Linked DNA regions of Homo sapiens: region 2 is reported to be linked to region 1. Evidence: microRNA targets listed by miRTarBase, many of them from high-throughput screens and not tested one by one. Region 1 holds a microRNA gene; the other region holds the end of a gene's coding sequence. Distances are from middle to middle.

Evidence for each region. Region 1 holds the annotated microRNA hsa-miR-1228-5p (GUGGGCGGGGGCAGGUGUGUG, at 3,807-3,827, shown strand). A microRNA usually pairs through its seed, bases 2 to 8, with sites in the 3' UTR of a target mRNA and lowers its output. Matches are read on the target gene's strand: a 7mer-m8 pairs with bases 2 to 8, a 7mer-A1 pairs with bases 2 to 7 and ends in A, and an 8mer does both.
Region 2: miRTarBase lists MDM2 as a target of hsa-miR-1228-5p. Seed matches in the 3' UTR shown: 7mer-m8 at 4,068-4,074.

Annotation. Positions count from the first base shown.
Region 1 is chr12:57,190,698-57,195,870 of GRCh38, forward strand. MIR1228 (microRNA 1228) reads left to right here and starts at 3,807; the gene lies at 3,807-3,879. It overlaps LRP1 (LDL receptor related protein 1), which reads left to right. Exons shown (of 89, transcript NM_002332.3): 43 at 108-312; 44 at 623-815; 45 at 2,148-2,273; 46 at 2,479-2,607; 47 at 2,869-2,988; 48 at 3,202-3,315; 49 at 3,657-3,806; 50 at 3,880-4,002; 51 at 4,288-4,404; 52 at 4,574-4,702; 53 at 4,961-5,083; 54 at 5,166-5,173. RefSeq lists an enhancer at 1,863-2,362.
Region 2 is chr12:68,839,286-68,844,458 of GRCh38, reverse strand. MDM2 (MDM2 proto-oncogene) reads right to left here. Exons shown (of 11, transcript NM_002392.6): 11 at 1-5,173. The coding sequence ends at 4,610. It also overlaps a transcript of CPM not described here. Among named protein-coding and RNA genes, the nearest start is that of MDM2, 34 kb to the right of the region's middle.

The sequences.
Region 1 (5,173 bases):
TTGCCCTGGCAGGCTTCCAGGTTCCAGGTGCCTACGCGTCCTGGCCTGTGCCCTCTGTTGTGGATTCTCAGGCTTTGCCTCCTGATCTCTGGACCCTCTTCCCCCAGCCTCATGTTCTGGACCAACTGGAATGAGCAGCATCCCAGCATCATGCGGGCGGCGCTCTCGGGAGCCAATGTCCTGACCCTTATCGAGAAGGACATCCGTACCCCCAATGGCCTGGCCATCGACCACCGTGCCGAGAAGCTCTACTTCTCTGACGCCACCCTGGACAAGATCGAGCGGTGCGAGTATGACGGCTCCCACCGCTATGTGAGTCTGCGGGGTGGGTGAGCTGGCGGGCGGCTGAGGGGAGGCCAGGGCCAGGGTCAGCCGTCAACCAAGACCGTCCAGGCACAGACATGGTGGGAACAGCTGGGAGGAGGTGAGTGCCTCCAGGCCCCAGCCTCGGTCAACCCCACCCTGTCCAGCTTGCTCCTCATCAGCTAGACGAGGGAGATAGCAGGATGCCTCTGCGGGCCCTCATTCTGTAGCTGTCAGAGGCCAGGCCAGGCTGTGGTCCGGTGGAGACTGGGCAAGAGGCCTGAGCGATGCTGTGACGGTGATGGTGCTGTCTCCACAGGTGATCCTAAAGTCAGAGCCTGTCCACCCCTTCGGGCTGGCCGTGTATGGGGAGCACATTTTCTGGACTGACTGGGTGCGGCGGGCAGTGCAGCGGGCCAACAAGCACGTGGGCAGCAACATGAAGCTGCTGCGCGTGGACATCCCCCAGCAGCCCATGGGCATCATCGCCGTGGCCAACGACACCAACAGCTGTGAGTGGGGCTGCCGCCAGCTGCCTCACCCTCCTGCCTGTCGTGCATGGACATACAAACACACACCCCACACACACATCGCACATACCACACGCACCCTACACATACCACACACACACATCCCACACATACTACACTACACACACCACACCACATACACACACCACACCCCTCCCACACACTCAACACATACACACCACACCATACACACCCCCCACACACCACATACACATACACCCCCAACACATACACACACATACACACCCCACATACACACACCACACATATCACATGCACACCCCACATATACCACACCACACACATACCACACACACACCACACACCACATACACACCACACATACCACACACACCCCACACATACCACATACACACACCACCACACACACTACACATACCACACACACACCACATACACACACCACATACACACACCACACATGACACATACACACCACACATAGGACACACATACACATGCCACACACCTACCACCCACAACACACATCACACACACACCACACAGCACACACACACACCACACACCACACGTACCACAAACATGCCACACACACACACACACATCTCACAGACATACTATAAACACCCCACACCCCACACACCACACCCCACACACACTTGCCTGGTCCTGCTCTCCCTGGGCCTCCATTACACAGACACACACAGCTGTACACACCTTTGGAACCGCAAAACCCCCAGTGCTCCTGTACCCCTTCCCACCAAGGCATCTACGCACACAGATGGACTCTGCACACGCCTGGCATCTCCTCCACGTTGCACACACACATTCATGTCACACCCGCCCCTCAGGGCTCATCCATGCCCTCGGTGCCCCTACCCTCACCCTGGTCACTCTCCTCACTTGGAGCCACACAGACAGCCGAGAGCCTGGGTGCACGTGCCCTCAGTGGGCACGAGTACATGCCCCAGCGCCCCCCACCACAGACCTGCAGCTTTCCCAGGTGTCTCCCATGCGCCCTGGGGCTCACTACTGCACCCGTGATCTCAGGGCCCTCAGACTCGAATCTCTCAGAAACACTCCTCAAAGCCCACGGTGCCCTGCCTAAAAGCACACACATCCTCAACGGCACACCTGCCGAAAACCCCATGCACCTGGCCCTCCCACAGCAGCCATCCCCATGCCCTCCCCACTGGCTGCAAGCCGCTGTGCCTGCCGTGACTGAGCAGAGGCTTGGGAGCTCCATGAAGTCAGTGAATGGGTGGGTGCACTCTGGGTGCATGCACAGCAGAGAACACTCTCCAGCCCTGCGCCCACCCTGTCCCTGCTCAGGTGAACTCTCTCCATGCCGAATCAACAACGGTGGCTGCCAGGACCTGTGTCTGCTCACTCACCAGGGCCATGTCAACTGCTCATGCCGAGGGGGCCGAATCCTCCAGGATGACCTCACCTGCCGAGGTGAGAGAGGCGGGGGGGAGGGGCTGGCGGGGAACCCAAGCACACACCAGGGATGGTGACCATCTCCCCTACATGCTCCAGCCCAGCCCCCCAAAGCCTTTTGCCAAGAAGACGCTGATGATGACCTCAGCTCCCCGGGGGAGGAGGCGTGGGCACTGGGGCCCACAGCGCTGGCTCAGAAAGCTCCCTCCACCTCCCTCCCCAGCGGTGAATTCCTCTTGCCGAGCACAAGATGAGTTTGAGTGTGCCAATGGCGAGTGCATCAACTTCAGCCTGACCTGCGACGGCGTCCCCCACTGCAAGGACAAGTCCGATGAGAAGCCATCCTACTGCAGTAAGGAGCCCCCTGCAGCCCCTGCCTCTTCCAGGCCCAGAGCCCAGGTCCTCCTCCCCCAGGCCCCTGCAGGATGGAGCAGGATCAGGACCCAGCTTCCTGACCATGAGTTTTGGGAGCTCATGAAGGGCAGAACCACTGTTAGCCTGGACTGGGCCTTTGGGTTTGGGGGTGGCCAGCTGGACACGTGCATGACGTCTCAGGGAGGCAGCCCTTTCCCTGTGCCTGTGGCTGACACGCAGCCTACTCCTCCATTTGCAGACTCCCGCCGCTGCAAGAAGACTTTCCGGCAGTGCAGCAATGGGCGCTGTGTGTCCAACATGCTGTGGTGCAACGGGGCCGACGACTGTGGGGATGGCTCTGACGAGATCCCTTGCAACAGTGAGTGAGGCGCACTGGCATAACCCATCTGTACCTCAGTTCCTGCCCCACCCCTCCCTGGCCAAGCTTTGTCCCTGGGCCCCGTGGTGTCTGGTTCAAGGCACTCTGTGACAGGCCAGGGCAGGTGCTGTGGGCCAGGAGCTCTGTCCTGCGTCCTTCTGGCCCCCACAGAGAAAACTCTGGCCTGACGATACGGGGCGGGCACTGTTCTAGAGACAGCCTGTGGTGTGGGCGAGTTCCGCTGCCGGGACGGGACCTGCATCGGGAACTCCAGCCGCTGCAACCAGTTTGTGGATTGTGAGGACGCCTCAGATGAGATGAACTGCAGTGAGTGACGCCCTTTGCTGGCACCTCCTGGGCTCCTCCCCATCGCTCACTGCATCTCCCGCCTTCAGGCCCTCCTGCACCTGCCCACATTCCTCTCTGCCTTCCCTCATCCCCGCTGACAGCCTCCATCTCCCTGAGGCCCTGTCCCCATCCCGCTCCTGCTCCTGGGCTCTCGTGGGGTTCCGAGAGGGGGCAGTGAGCAGATGGTGCAGACAGTGCCCCACCAGAAGGGCACCGTTCAACTTTTGGAAACACATGAAGGCTCCATAGGGCTGGCAGCTGCCCCAGTCGGGGGTGATCCAGGGGGAACCAGGTATCACCCTCACCCCTGCCCCCACCAGGTGCCACCGACTGCAGCAGCTACTTCCGCCTGGGCGTGAAGGGCGTGCTCTTCCAGCCCTGCGAGCGGACCTCACTCTGCTACGCACCCAGCTGGGTGTGTGATGGCGCCAATGACTGTGGGGACTACAGTGATGAGCGCGACTGCCCAGGTGGGCGGGGGCAGGTGTGTGGTGGGTGGTGGCCTGCGGTGAGCAGGGCCCTCACACCTGCCTCGCCCCCCAGGTGTGAAACGCCCCAGATGCCCTCTGAATTACTTCGCCTGCCCTAGTGGGCGCTGCATCCCCATGAGCTGGACGTGTGACAAAGAGGATGACTGTGAACATGGCGAGGACGAGACCCACTGCAGTGAGTGACCACTGCACCCACTCAGTGCTCCAAGAGCCTGCTGGGCCCCACTTCTTAGTCCCCCCCAGCAAATGCCCCCTTGGAAAAGGGCATCCAGAGCCTTCAACCCCCTGCCCCACACCCCAACTCTTGAGGTCAGACTCAGAGACTCTGCCTCTAGCTGCTGCTGAGCCCCCCCACAGAGGGGTGCTGTGGGCATCTCTCCTGTCCTTCCCATGGCATCAGCCTCCCCAGGTGGGTGACCCCCACCCTTCCCCATCTAACTGTGGCTTCTGACTGCCCCAGACAAGTTCTGCTCAGAGGCCCAGTTTGAGTGCCAGAACCATCGCTGCATCTCCAAGCAGTGGCTGTGTGACGGCAGCGATGACTGTGGGGATGGCTCAGACGAGGCTGCTCACTGTGGTAAGGAAGCTGGGATTGGGCCGGGGGAGGTGCCCCAGGGAGGGACAGACCCCACCCAACTCCACCCCACACACAGACACCCCTGCAGACGACGGCGAACCATCACCTCCACTGCTAGACCTGATCTACCCGCTCCTAAGTCTCTCAGTGGCCCTCTCTCCCCCTACAGAAGGCAAGACGTGCGGCCCCTCCTCCTTCTCCTGCCCTGGCACCCACGTGTGCGTCCCCGAGCGCTGGCTCTGTGACGGTGACAAAGACTGTGCTGATGGTGCAGACGAGAGCATCGCAGCTGGTTGCTGTGAGTGGCGGGGCCACGTGGAGCGGGTGGACAGCAAATGGCCACAGTCTCACTTTGCAGATGGGGAAGCCGGGGTGCAGGAGAGGAAATGCCTCAGCGGGGTCCACTGGGGGCGGAGCCATAGCTGTAGCCCAGGTGTCCAGACTCCTCATCCAGTGCCCTGCCCACTCTACCAGGAGAACCACAGGAGGTTAGAGTGAGGGACGGTCGGCCGCTGGCCAGGCAGGGCTGAAGGGCTGTGTCCACCTCTGTCCACAGTGTACAACAGCACTTGTGACGACCGTGAGTTCATGTGCCAGAACCGCCAGTGCATCCCCAAGCACTTCGTGTGTGACCACGACCGTGACTGTGCAGATGGCTCTGATGAGTCCCCCGAGTGTGGTGAGCCTTCGGCGGTGGTGGGAGGAGGCCCTGCCCTCTGCCGGGCCAGGGCATCAGCCTCACAGGTCCATTCCTCCCCCAGAGTACCCG
Region 2 (5,173 bases), 12 Mb from region 1:
AGGCTGCCATGTGACCTAAGAGAAGACAGGGAGAACACAGCATTTCTTACTCCTACTAACTTGCAACATCATTCTCTCAAGTTGCTCTCATTGGAGGCTCCCAACTGCTTCAAGCTGCCCAGTGATATTTGTATTTCTAAAGTGGGCAGGCATGGCCATTCCAGAAAAAGAAACACATTCAGACTTGTGCCTTTTGTTACCCAAATATATGATATTCAAATAATTTCTATTTTAACAACTCATAAAAATTTAAGATCAAATAATTGCATTCTTGAAACAATTCTTAATCATTTATTTTCAACACGTGTACTATAAAGAACCTAAGAAATCAGACAATTTTAATAACCCATAAACATGTTGAATCCATTTGCAGATTTAAATTTTGTAAAAATAGCTGTCACTGCCTCCATATATCAAGTGTACTATGTTTATAATCACATTTATGCTACCGATACTCCTCAGAAAAAAACAGATTCTGCTTGGTTCTAGCTTCAGTATTATGAACTCCAATAATGCTTTGAGGACCTCCAAAGGAAAAAAACAGATTCTACTAGGTTCTAGCTGAAATATTATCAACTCCAAATTGAAGCTGAAGTATTATCAACTCCAAATAATGCTTCGAGGACCTCCAAAAAAAAGAGATTCTGCTTGGTTGTAGCTGAAGTATTATCAACTCCAAATAATGCTTGGAGGACCTCCACAGGTAAACTACTAATCCCTTTGGCCATTTATTGAGACAGACAGAGAGAGAGAGAGAGAGTTTTGAAGCAACAATGTACCATTAGTAAAGTTGCTGTGCAGAATTACCTCAGTCCTATTCTAAGCTTACAGTTCAGTTGATTTTATTGTCTTCACCTAAGTATATACAATTCACATATGGGAGAAAAACACTAAATCAAGATGGTTATTTTCACTGTTTTGCTTAAGATTCATATTTAAATATAAATCAAGAAGTTAATCCACAGTTTGAGAGATACTTATATTAGAAATTTTAAATGTTAAATACATAATTGTAAATATGGTGTATGTACTGTTTCACATACAATGGGTATTGATCAAATCAGTGTAATTAGCACACCCATCAGCTCAAATATCATTTATTTGTAGCAAGAACATTCAATACATTAACTATAGTCACCCTACTCTCTCTCTCTCTCTCTCTCAATAAATGGCCAAAGGGATTAGTACTTTTACCTTTGGAGGTCCTCAAAGCATTATTTGGAGTTCATAATACTTCAGCTAGAACTTATTCCTTCAAATTTAACTCTGTACCCATTAAAAGTGGTTTTGTGTGCAATTAACAGACACATGTTCTACCCATACATTGTTTTCCAAAATTATTGTGTGGCTTTAAAAAAAAAAAAACCCACACAACAAATTGCAAAAGGCACTGAGATAACATCTGCTTCTAGATCATTGCTAGGCTCGAAAAATAAAGCTTGTTCTACCAGGAATGACAAGTTAGAACTTAGTATTTGCCAAAGCAGAAATTATATAGTGTCAGTTATTTCAGGCAAACCTTATTCGGCTCTCATCCCCAACTATCTGTCAGAACAATTAAAAGAGATCAAAACAGTCCAGCATAACTAGGCTTCATTATATAAGGCCATTTTGTTCTAAGACACTAATAAACCAAAATAAGAAATATTAAAATCAAAATAAAAGATATTATTTGAGCTATTTTCATACAAACTGTTGGTTCCTTATATCCTCCCTTCTATAATAAAGGGCATATTTTACTGCAAAGAAAATTTTACTTTATATATATCACTAGCCATAAATTTTTGAATGTCATTAATTACATGTTGTCTAGTACCATTAACCAAATAGCGTAACTATTTTATGTCCACATTTCACTTCTGTATTTACAAACATATCAGTAAAGAGTTAACAATGAGATGCGATCAAACATCCATATTATCTGTTTTGTAGACAGCAATGTAGATGATTTTGTAATCACCTTTCATCGGAGTGACCTTATATAAAAAATAAGTCAATAATTTAGAGGTTCTAAGTCTCCAAAGGAGATTTTCAAATGTAAATATAGAAATGGTTATAGATAATGAGATTTTTAGGAAACCTCTGCCATGTCTGCATCCTGTTAACTGTTATATCATCTTTTCTTCCAGCTGCGTTCCTTTGCCTGCAACAGGGGTCAAGATGAGTTTTGCCTGACTTCTTTGATGTCCTGAACTTTCCGTAGTCCTTTTTCTTGAATTTGTTCATTATAAATATAGCTTGGCATTTGTTTGATCTTTTCAACTGTCTTCACTGCATCAGTAGTTTTATTCCATAGTTCTTGCAGATATTTGACAGGCTTGTTACTATATTTTTCAAATTCAAATCCACTGTAAGCTCATTATTAGCAGTTGCTTTACAGAATGCTTTAGTCCACCTAACCTTTTGAGAATTGCACTTCTTTTAAAGTTTTTGTGACATTTATGTTTATACAATCTGAACACCTTGCAACAGCTGCAGATGAACATCATGATGTGGTCAGGGTAGATGGGTCCCAAAGAAACTAACACTTCTCAGTGCTGAGCTCGGATGGGCCTCCACTGACCAAACACGGAGCTTGAGAGGAAGTCAAGAGGTATCTTGGAATTCCACATGCTGACCCTGTCATTCTTGAAGGAAAATGATGCATAATTTCTGAATAATTCAGAAAGAACTTAACAATCTTTCCAGTTAGTTTTTAAATAACAATTCTGTTTATCAAATTTCTGAATTAACTTTTCTGAATTCACGGGTTTCTAAAACTGGCCTTAAGCAAAAGTCTGAAACCTAGGCTGGGAACCATGTAACCCAGGCCAAGAAGGTACTTTAAAGTGTCTTAGAGTTGTTTTTCAACTTAGGGGGAAACAACAGATTCCATTAAATCCCATAAAGGATTTTTTTGTGTGTGAAAAAGGGCCTGATGTAATCTAGGTTAGACTCAGGAGGCTTTAACAAGTTTTGTCTTACGGGTAAATGGTGGCTATTTTCACAGATAACATCATTACTCCCATCCCTTACTATGGTTTATACAAAAGAGGCTGGAGAATAAGTACATTTTTACAGCCGGGTGTGGTGGCTAACGCCTGTAATCCTACTTAGCACTTTGCGAGGCCAAGACAGGAGGATCTCTTGAGCCCAGGAGTTCGAGACCAGCCTGGGCAACACAGGGAGACCCTGTCTCTATTGTTAAATCAAGAAAACCTAAAAAACATTTTCATTTACATAGCACCAAATATAAGAGCCTTTTTTTTTTTAACCTAGAAAGAGTATTTTGGAGAGAGAAACTAAGGATCAGAAGGTTTAAGAGTATCAAAAATCTGAGGCCAGGTGCCTCACATCTGTAATCCCAGCATTTTGGGAGGCTGAGGTGAGTAGATCACTTGAGTTTAGGAGTTCAAGATCAGCCTGGCTAACATGGTGAAACCCTGTCTTTACTAAAAATACAAAAAAATCAGCTGGTATGGTGGTACATGCCTGTAATCCCAGTTACTTGGAAGGCTGAGGCAGGAGAATAGCTTGAACCCAGAAGGCGGAAGTTGCAGTGAGCCGAGATCACTCCACTGCACTCTAGCATGGGTGATGGAGCAAGACTCTGTCTCAAAAAAAAAAAAAAAAAAAAAAAAAAAGAGTATCTAAAATTTAAATACTAATTCTTGGCTGGACATGGTGGCTCACATCTGCAATCCCAGCACTTCGGGAGGCCGAGGCGGGTGACCTCACTTGAGGTCAGGAGTTCGTGACCAGCCTGGCCAACATGGTGAAACCCTATCTCTACTAAAAATACAAAAATTAGCTGGGCATGGTGGTGCATGCCTGTAATCCCAGCTGCTCCAGAGGCTGAGCCAGGAGAATGGCTTGAACCCGGGAAGCGGAGACTGCTAGATCATGACACTGCACTCCAGCCTGGGCGACAGAGAGACTCATCTCAAAACAAACAAACAAACAAACAAACAAAAAAACAAAAAACTAAATCTTTCACACATTTTCTCTTTATATCAAAGGTACTAAGTGACATTTAGGCCGGACGCGGTGGCTCATGCCTGTAATCCCAGCACTTTGGGAGGCCGAGGTGGGCGGATCACGAGGTCAGGAGATCGAGACCATCCTGGCTAACACGGTGAAACCCTGTCTCTACTAAAAGTACAAAAAATTAGCCAGGTGTGGTGGCAGATGACTGTAGGCCAAGCTAATTGGGAGGCTGAGGCAGGAGAATGGTGCGAACCCGGGAGGCAGAGCTTGCAGTGAGCCAAGATCACGCCACTGCACTCCAGCCTGGGTAACAGAGCAAGACTCGGTCTCAAAAAAAATAATAAGTTACATTTAAATGTCATATACATATTTAAGAAAAAAAAAAACCAAGTACTTCTCATTTAAGACAGAGTAGAAATTATTTAAAATTAGGAGTTGGTGTAAAGGATGAGCTACATATTCAAGTCAAATTATAGTAAGTATTCACTATTCCACTACCAAAGTAGGTCAATTATACTAAAGAGAAGAAATCTATGTGAATTGAGGCATTTTCTCACTTTGATATATGTGAATAAATTTCAGGTTGTCTAAATTCCTAGGGTTATATAGTTAGAAATATATAATTCTCTTATAGACAGGTCAACTAGGGGAAATAAGTTAGCACAATCATTTGAATTGGTTGTCTACATACTGGGCAGGGCTTATTCCTTTTCTTTAGCTTCTTTGCACATGTAAAGCAGGCCATAAGATGTCCTGTTTTGCCATGGACAATGCAACCATTTTTAGGTCGACCTTGACAAATCACACAAGGTTCAATGGCATTAAGGGGCAAACTAGATTCCACACTCTCTTCTTTGTCTTGGGTTTCTTCCCTTTCAAACTCTTTCACATCTTCTTGGCTGCTATAAATAATGCTACTAGAAGTTGATGGCTGAGAATAGTCTTCACTTTCTTGTGATTGTGAAGCTTGTGTAATTTTATCATCATTTTCCTCAACACATGACTCTCTGGAATCATTCACTATAGTTTTTTTACAATCAGGAACATCAAAGCCCTCTTCAGCTTGTGTTGAGTTTTCCAGTTTGGCTTTCTCAGAGATTTCCCCTTTATCTTTCCCTTTATCTTCAGGAAGCCAATTCTCACGAAGGGCCCAACATCTGTTGCAATGTGATGGAAGGGGGGGATTCATTTCATTGCATGAAGTGCA